2 separate regions of the Homo sapiens genome follow, and region 1 is reported to be linked to region 2. The links are microRNA targets in miRTarBase. Many come from high-throughput screens and were not tested one by one. Region 2 holds a microRNA gene; the other region holds the end of a gene's coding sequence.

Region 1 (3,269 bases), not on the chromosome of region 2:
TCAAAATCATTGTGAGGAGAGGGTAATCTGAAGTAATCAAAACAATCCCCCTCCCCGCTTTTTGGGGGAGTGAAGGAGAAAGGGAGAAGGCAGCAGGTAGCCGTTCCTGTGGAAAGGATACAGAACTCGTCAGTGGGACGAGTAATTCTTTCCCTGTGAAAGCAATGAAGACAAACACCTGGGGAAGGTTAGCGGCTCCAACGTAAGACGTTAAAGAGAGTTCCAACAGGGCACAGCACCCACAGACAGTGTGAAAAGAACGGAAACAGGGGCAATAGGAGCAGAGGAATGTCCTGTACTTTTCAATTCTAGGCAGGCAACATGCAAAGGGTTCATGAAGCGGTATACGATATGTAATGGATTTTCTCGTTTCAGGTAAGAAAAACTGGGTTAGGAGGTGGGACGAGAGAAGCAGGTTCGCCACTTTAGGTTACCCTCACCCGCCTACCCCATACCCTCGTTGCTCTTGTTCAGCACGTTCAGACAGTCCTTGGCTTCCACATACTTGGTCTGTACCACTTTGAGCTGAGCAATGGACGTGGACAAGAACTCCACTTCCTACAGAGGACCGGGATAGCGGGTCAATGAGAGGACTAAGGGGAGAAAGGAGCGCGGCCGGGGAGGGGGCAGGTCCTGGGATCGGATAGAGGTTTCGCCTGGGAAAGGTAGGCTGCCAACTTGGAACCGGGCGCGAGAAGTACGCGTGGGCAAGGGGGATGTAGAGCAGGAAAGAGGTGCCTCTGGGGCCCGTCCCCACCTGGTCCAGCTGGTTCTTGAGCATTTCTAGCTGCGGCAGATTCAGCTCCGTGATGTTAATAGACTGCGCCATGTTGGGAAGGCCGACTTAACGAAGAGGAAGTCTCTCGGCGAGCAACGCTCTAGCCGTCCTCTGCGCGTCTCGGTGGCGCCGGGAGGCCTCGCTGCGCCAGACAGCTCTATGATCCTCCGTCCCGGAAGGGAAGGAGGGGCTTGAGCCTCTCAGAGACTGTTGTGTGAGTTCATTTCATAAAATGTCTTAAGCCTAGTATTGTAAAGTAGCAGCAAACAGGACTCCTGCCTACAAGGAACTGCAAAATCTTAAAGTTCTCACGACACAACCACGATATTACAAAGTAGTGTATGCTACTCCACGTGGGTGGTATAAGCTACTGGAAAGCAGGCTGGATTGCCATGGCGACGGCTCGGGGGCCTGGCCCTGCTCCTCTCCACCCCGCTTGCTATTGCTGCCTGCTGGTACCCCGCCAGGCCCGATTTCAAATGTTCCTCCCAGCACGGCATGGAAATGGCAGGGAAATTCTAAACTCTTTTTCCCAGATGGCCTCTGAGGCCGAAAGGCAGGAAAAAAAAAAAAATCCCTTGTCAGACCGTTCTGAATTGTCCTTGGAAAAAAACAGGCATTAGATTGAAAGCTTGTCGAAGGCAGGAACCAACCATGTTCTCATCACTGAACCAATTCTTCCCCTCTCGCTATAACCATCTTCCCCCAGCCGGAAGTAGGCTGACACGTAGTAGGATCTGAAAAAGGGTTTATCACCCGTTGCCAGTGAGGTGGTGGGAGAACAGCAAGGAAGCGCCATTGTCAACCAAGTACAGCACAAATTAATCAATAAAATATTTTGGCCGGGCATGGTGGCTCACGCCTGCAATCCCAGCACTTTGGGAGGCCGAGAAGGACAGATTGCTTGAGCCCAGGAGTTTGAGACCAGCTTGGGCAACACGGCGACACCCCGTCTCCACAAAAAATACAAAAATTAGCCGGGCTGGTGGCACACGCCTGTAGTCCCAGCTACATGGGAGGCTGAGGTGGGAGGATCGCTTGAGCTGGAGAGTTGAGGCTGCAGTAGGCTGTGATTGTGCACACTAGCAACAGAGCTAGACTCTGTCTCAAAAAAAAAAAGGTTTTACCATGTGCTGTATGTGAGGGATACGTGAGAGTGTAAGATACTTGCTTCCCTTGAGCTTAACAATTGGAGAGAAAAACCACACTAGAACTCCACAGATCCACAGACTCTACTGCTAAAGTTACACATTGGTAAGTGTAACAGGTGTACATGGGCAGACAGCAGTAGCCTTTAACATCTACTTAGGAGGCAGGCAGGGCAACTGAGGCATTAAAACTAGTGCCATGGCTGGGCGCGGTGGCTCACGCCTGTAATCCCAGCACTTTGGGAGGCTGAGGAGGGTGGATCACAAGGTCAGGAGTTCGAGACCAGCCTGGCCAATATGGTGAAACCCTGTCTCTACTAAAAATGCAAAAATTAGTGGGACGTGGCGGCATGTGCCTGTAGTTCCAGCTACTCAGGAGGCTGAGGCAGGAGAATCGCTTGAACCCAGCAGGCAGAGGTTGCAGTGAGCCGAGATTGCGCCACTGCACTCCAGCATGGGCAACAGAGCAAGACTCTGTCTCAAAAAAAAACAAAAACAAAAAACAAAACACTAGTGCCACTCCAAAGATACCTGCGGCAGGAAGACAGGACGGACGGATGGTACCTGGCCAAAACACTCTCAAAGGGTCTATCACTACCCTTCCTTGGGCCTGTCTCTACTTAGCATTTTGATGCCCCTTTCTCCTCCAGATTTGTCTGCTGAGGCCCAGCCAGGCCCAGCAGGCTTTGTCCTGTGTCTTTGCCTTTCTTCCCCAAGCACTCAAACTTGATCTGCTGTAACCTGTTCCTGTCAGCTTACAGTACCACATAGTAGGAAGGGGGCAGTCATGCCGTGTCTTTAAATGTTCTCAGATAAACTACGCAAAACAGGGTTTAAATGATGTATCTTTATTATACTGAGGTTAAATCAAAAGGAAATGTTTCATATAAAACACTGGGGAAAATCACTTTAAAAGAGTTATCCTAAGGATTAAATCTAACCTTGGAGGTAGAACAGTTATGAGGCTTCTAGCATCAATAAGACAGCTCCATGGGGTTACCGCAGAGAGACAGGCAAGCCATAGGCTATAGGTGCAGCCCCAATAAGATACTTGAGTCGGGGAGCTTGGCGGGCCTGGTTTACATAGTAGAGAAGGGGGGCCCCTGGGCCTGCTCCAAGCCAGCCTTGCAGCAGAGCTTCCGTGTAGCGGTCAATGTCGCGGTCAGTCACATCCCAGAGATTACCCAGAAACAAGGGGCTGGGAAAAGAAAAGGAGGAAATACAAAGTAAGGGCTCTAAAACAGAATACATAGGAAAACACCATTGGTGGTGGGGGTGGGTGAGTGGAGAGGATTGAACCAATGAGAAACTCCTTTGGCCCTTGGTTACAAGAGAAGAACAGA
Region 2 (3,593 bases):
TATCGTGGTTCCTGGGAGGTGTGATCCCGTGCTCCCTGGGAGGTCTGATCCCGTGCTTCCTGGGAGGTATGATATCATGGTTCCTGGGAGGTATGATATCGTGGTTCCTGGGAGGTGTGATCCCGTGCTTCCTGGGAGGTGTGATCCTGTGCTTCCTGGGAGGTGTGATCCCATGCTTCCTGGGAGGTGTGATCCTGTGCTTCCTGGGAGGTGTGATACCATGCTTCCTGGGAGGTGTGATCCCACGCTCACTGGGAGGTGTGATCTCACACTCGCTGGGAGGTGTGCTATCGTCTTCCCTGGGAGGTGTGATCCTGTTCTTCCTGAGCGGTGTGATCCTGTGCTCCCTGGGGGGTCTGATCCTGTGCTTCCTGGGAGGTGTGATATCATGGTTCCTGGGAGGTGTGATCCCGTGCTTCCTGGGAGGTGTGATATTGTGGTTCCTGGGAGGTGTGATCCCGTGCTCCCTGGGAGGTGTGATCCCGTGCTCCCTGGGAGGTGTGATCCCGTGCTCCCTGGGAGGTGTGATCCCGTGCTCCCTGGGAGGTGTGATCCCGTGCTCCCTGTGAGGTCTGATCCTGTGCTTCCTGGGAGGTGTGATATCGTGGTTCCTGGGAGGTGTGATATCGTGGTTCCTGGGAGGTGTGATCCCGTGCTTCCTGGGAGGTGTGATCCTGTGCTTCCTGGAAGGTGTGATATCGTGGTTCCTGGGAGGTGTGATATCGTGGTTCCTGGGAGGTGTGATATCGTGGTTCCTGGGAGGTGTGATATCGTGGTTCCTGGGAGGTGTGATCTGGTGCTCCCTGGGAGGTGTGATCCCATGCTTCCTGGGAGGTGTGATCCCGTGCTTCCTGGGAGGTGTGATCCTGTGCTTCCTGGGAGGTGTGATACCATGCTTCCTGGGAGGTGTGATCCCACGCTCACTGGGAGGTGTGATCTCACACTCGCTGGGAGGTGTGCTATCGTCTTCCCCGGGAGGTGTGATCCTGTTCTTCCTGAGAGGTGTGATCCTGTGCTCCCTGGGGGGTCTGATCCTGTGCTCCCTGGGAGGTGTGATATCATGGTTCCTGGGAGGTGTGATCCTGTGCTTCCTGGGAGGTGTGATATCGTGGTTCCTGGGAGGTGTGATCCCGTGCTTCCTGGGAGGTGTGATACTGTGCTTCCTGGGAGGTGTGATCCCGTGCTCCCCAGGAGGTCTGATCCCGTGCTTCCTGGGAGGTGTGATATCGTGGTTCCTGGGAGGTGTGATATCGTGGTTCCTGGGAGGTGTGATATCGTGGTTCCTGGGAGGTGTGATATTGTGGTTCCTGGGAGGTGTGATCCCGTGCTTCCTGGGAGGTGTGATCCTGTGCTTCCTGGGAGGTGTGATCCTGTGCTTCCTGGGAGGTGTGATCCTGTGCTTCCTGGGAGGTGTGATATCGTGGTTCCTGGGAGGTGTGATCTGGTGCTCCCTGGGAGGTGTGATCCGGTGCTCCCTGGGAGGTGTGATCCTGTGCTTCCTGGGAGGTGTGATCCTGTGCTTCCTGGGAGGTGTGATATCGTGGTTCCTGGGAGGTGTGATCCGGTGCTCCCTGGGAGGTGTGATCCAGTGCTCCCTGGGAGGTGTGATCCCGTGCTCCCTGGGAGGTGTGATCCCATGCTCCCTGGGAGGTGTGATCCCGTGCTCCCTGGGAGGTGTGATCCCGTGCTCCCTGGGAGGTGTGATCCCGTGCTTCCTGGGAGGTGTGATCCCGTGCTTCCTGGGAGGTGTGATCCCGTGCTTCCTGGGAGGTGTGATCCCGTGCTTCCTGGGAGGTGTGATCCTGTGCTTCCTGGGAGGTGTGATCACATGCCTGCTGGTGATAGAGAGGCACAGCTCCCCATTGGGGAACAACCAGGACCCAGCCCTGGGAGGTGTGGATTCAGGAGGGCCCCAGAGGCCTGCATGAGCTAGTGAGAGCTAGGAGGTGGTGTCCGCACTGGGAGCGGGACCCACACAGAGGGCACGTGGGGTAAGCATCAATGAAGTTCCGGGTGTCAGCCAATTGCACCCTCCCAATGGCCCTGGAGCAGTTGCAAAAGCTTCCTGCTCTCCCATCGTCCCCTTCTCCAACCCACTCCCGAATGCAGACGCCCCTGGCCCTCCTGGGTGGCCAGAGCCTGAGGACACTCACTAGGACAGCCCTGGGCAGCTCAAAGGAGCACTTTGGCCTGGCACAGGCCAGCTCCAGGGATGCCCCCACCTTCCTCCACATGCATGGATCGGGTTTCGTCACCAAGACATCTGCAGGACAGGAGCGGGGCCTCTGGCCACATGGCCAGAGTGCCTCCTCCATTCATGGGTCCCATGTGCAAATGGGCAGACAGGAGCTCTGAGCAGCAGATTCCCCGAGGCCACATGGGGCACTGGTGGCATCTGAGCCTGGGTCGCTGAGGCAGCTGTCCTCAGCCTGGTCTCACCAGGCCACAGCTGTCAGTGGGTAAACGTGTGTGCGCGTGTGTGTGTGCTCCTGCGGCACTGTGGGGGTCATGCCTGTGGCTGAGCATCTCCTGGAATTCTCTCGTCTCACTTTCGACCTCCTCTTCTCAGCAAATCCCATCAACCCCATCTTTGAAACACCTGGAGCCGGAGTGTGACCCACTCTCATGGGTCTGCACCGCCCCCAGCCTGCGTCTGGGTTACTGCCCCGTGTGGCTTCCCTCCCCATCTCTGCTCAGGCCACACCAGCCCCCTCCCACTTCCCCTTCCTCTCCCCACTCCCTCTGGCCTCTGCCCTGCTGTTCCCTCTCCTGCAAAGCCCTTCCTGCCCGCTGGGCTCCAGGCAGAGAGAACCTTCCCAGTGGCCCTGGTCACCCAGGAGAGCACTTCAATCCCCACCCCACACACACTACACACCCCATACACACAGGCACACACACCACACCCACACACACACTATACAGACACAGCACAAACCACACACACAGGCATGCACACTATACACATGCAGCACACACCACACACACAGGCACATTCCCCACAGGCACGCACACATATACCATACACACGCCAGCACACACACCACACAGGCACATGCACAAACACCACCTCCACACACAGGCATACACCACACACACACACACCACACACACCACACACACAGGCACACACACCACATACACAGGCACAGCTCCCCACAGGCACACACACACACCACACAGGCACACCACACACACAGGTACACACACAACACACATACACTTCACATAAACACAAATAGCACATGCAAAATACACCACATAGCACATGCACACACGTGCCATACACACATGCACATCACCCCCCCCACACACACACAACCACACACATGCACATTGTCTCCTCCCCTTTACATTTCCTCAGGTCTCATTCCTCTGGGCACACCTTACCCCTGCCTTGTGGGTCTTGGTCAGCCCGTGTCCCCTGGAGTGGCATCTCCTTGAGGGTGGGTTCTCCCCTGCTGCTCCCGCCTGGCACACAGCAGGTGGTCAATGAACTGCCACTGAAGGAATGGGGGAATGAATGGATGAATGAAAGAGTGGATGGATGGATGGATGGATGGATGGATGGATGGATGGATAAATGATGAATAGAT

What was found. The annotated mature microRNA hsa-miR-3689d reads GGGAGGUGUGAUCUCACACUCG and lies in region 2 at 926-947, shown strand. An mRNA with a match to its seed (bases 2 to 7 or 8) in the 3' UTR can be bound and repressed. Matches are read on the target gene's strand: a 7mer-m8 pairs with bases 2 to 8, a 7mer-A1 pairs with bases 2 to 7 and ends in A, and an 8mer does both.
Region 1: miRTarBase lists ESPL1 as a target of hsa-miR-3689d. Seed matches in the 3' UTR shown: 7mer-A1 at 2,870-2,876.

Annotation. Positions count from the first base shown.
Region 1 is chr12:53,293,128-53,296,396 of GRCh38, reverse strand. ESPL1 (extra spindle pole bodies like 1, separase) reads right to left here. Exons shown (of 31, transcript NM_012291.5): 31 at 2,759-3,124. The coding sequence ends at 2,923. It overlaps PFDN5 (prefoldin subunit 5), which reads right to left and starts at 855. Exons shown (of 6, transcript NM_002624.4): 1 at 758-855; 2 at 456-558; 3 at 122-153. The coding sequence starts at 829. RefSeq lists enhancers at 1-1,147, 633-1,172.
Region 2 is chr9:134,847,014-134,850,606 of GRCh38, reverse strand. MIR3689D1 (microRNA 3689d-1) reads left to right here and starts at 925; the gene lies at 925-998. MIR3689C (microRNA 3689c) reads left to right here and starts at 1,238; the gene lies at 1,238-1,309. MIR3689A (microRNA 3689a) reads left to right here and starts at 1,043; the gene lies at 1,043-1,120. It overlaps MIR3689B (microRNA 3689b), which reads left to right and starts at 335; the gene lies at 335-482. It also overlaps MIR3689D2, MIR3689E and LOC101448202.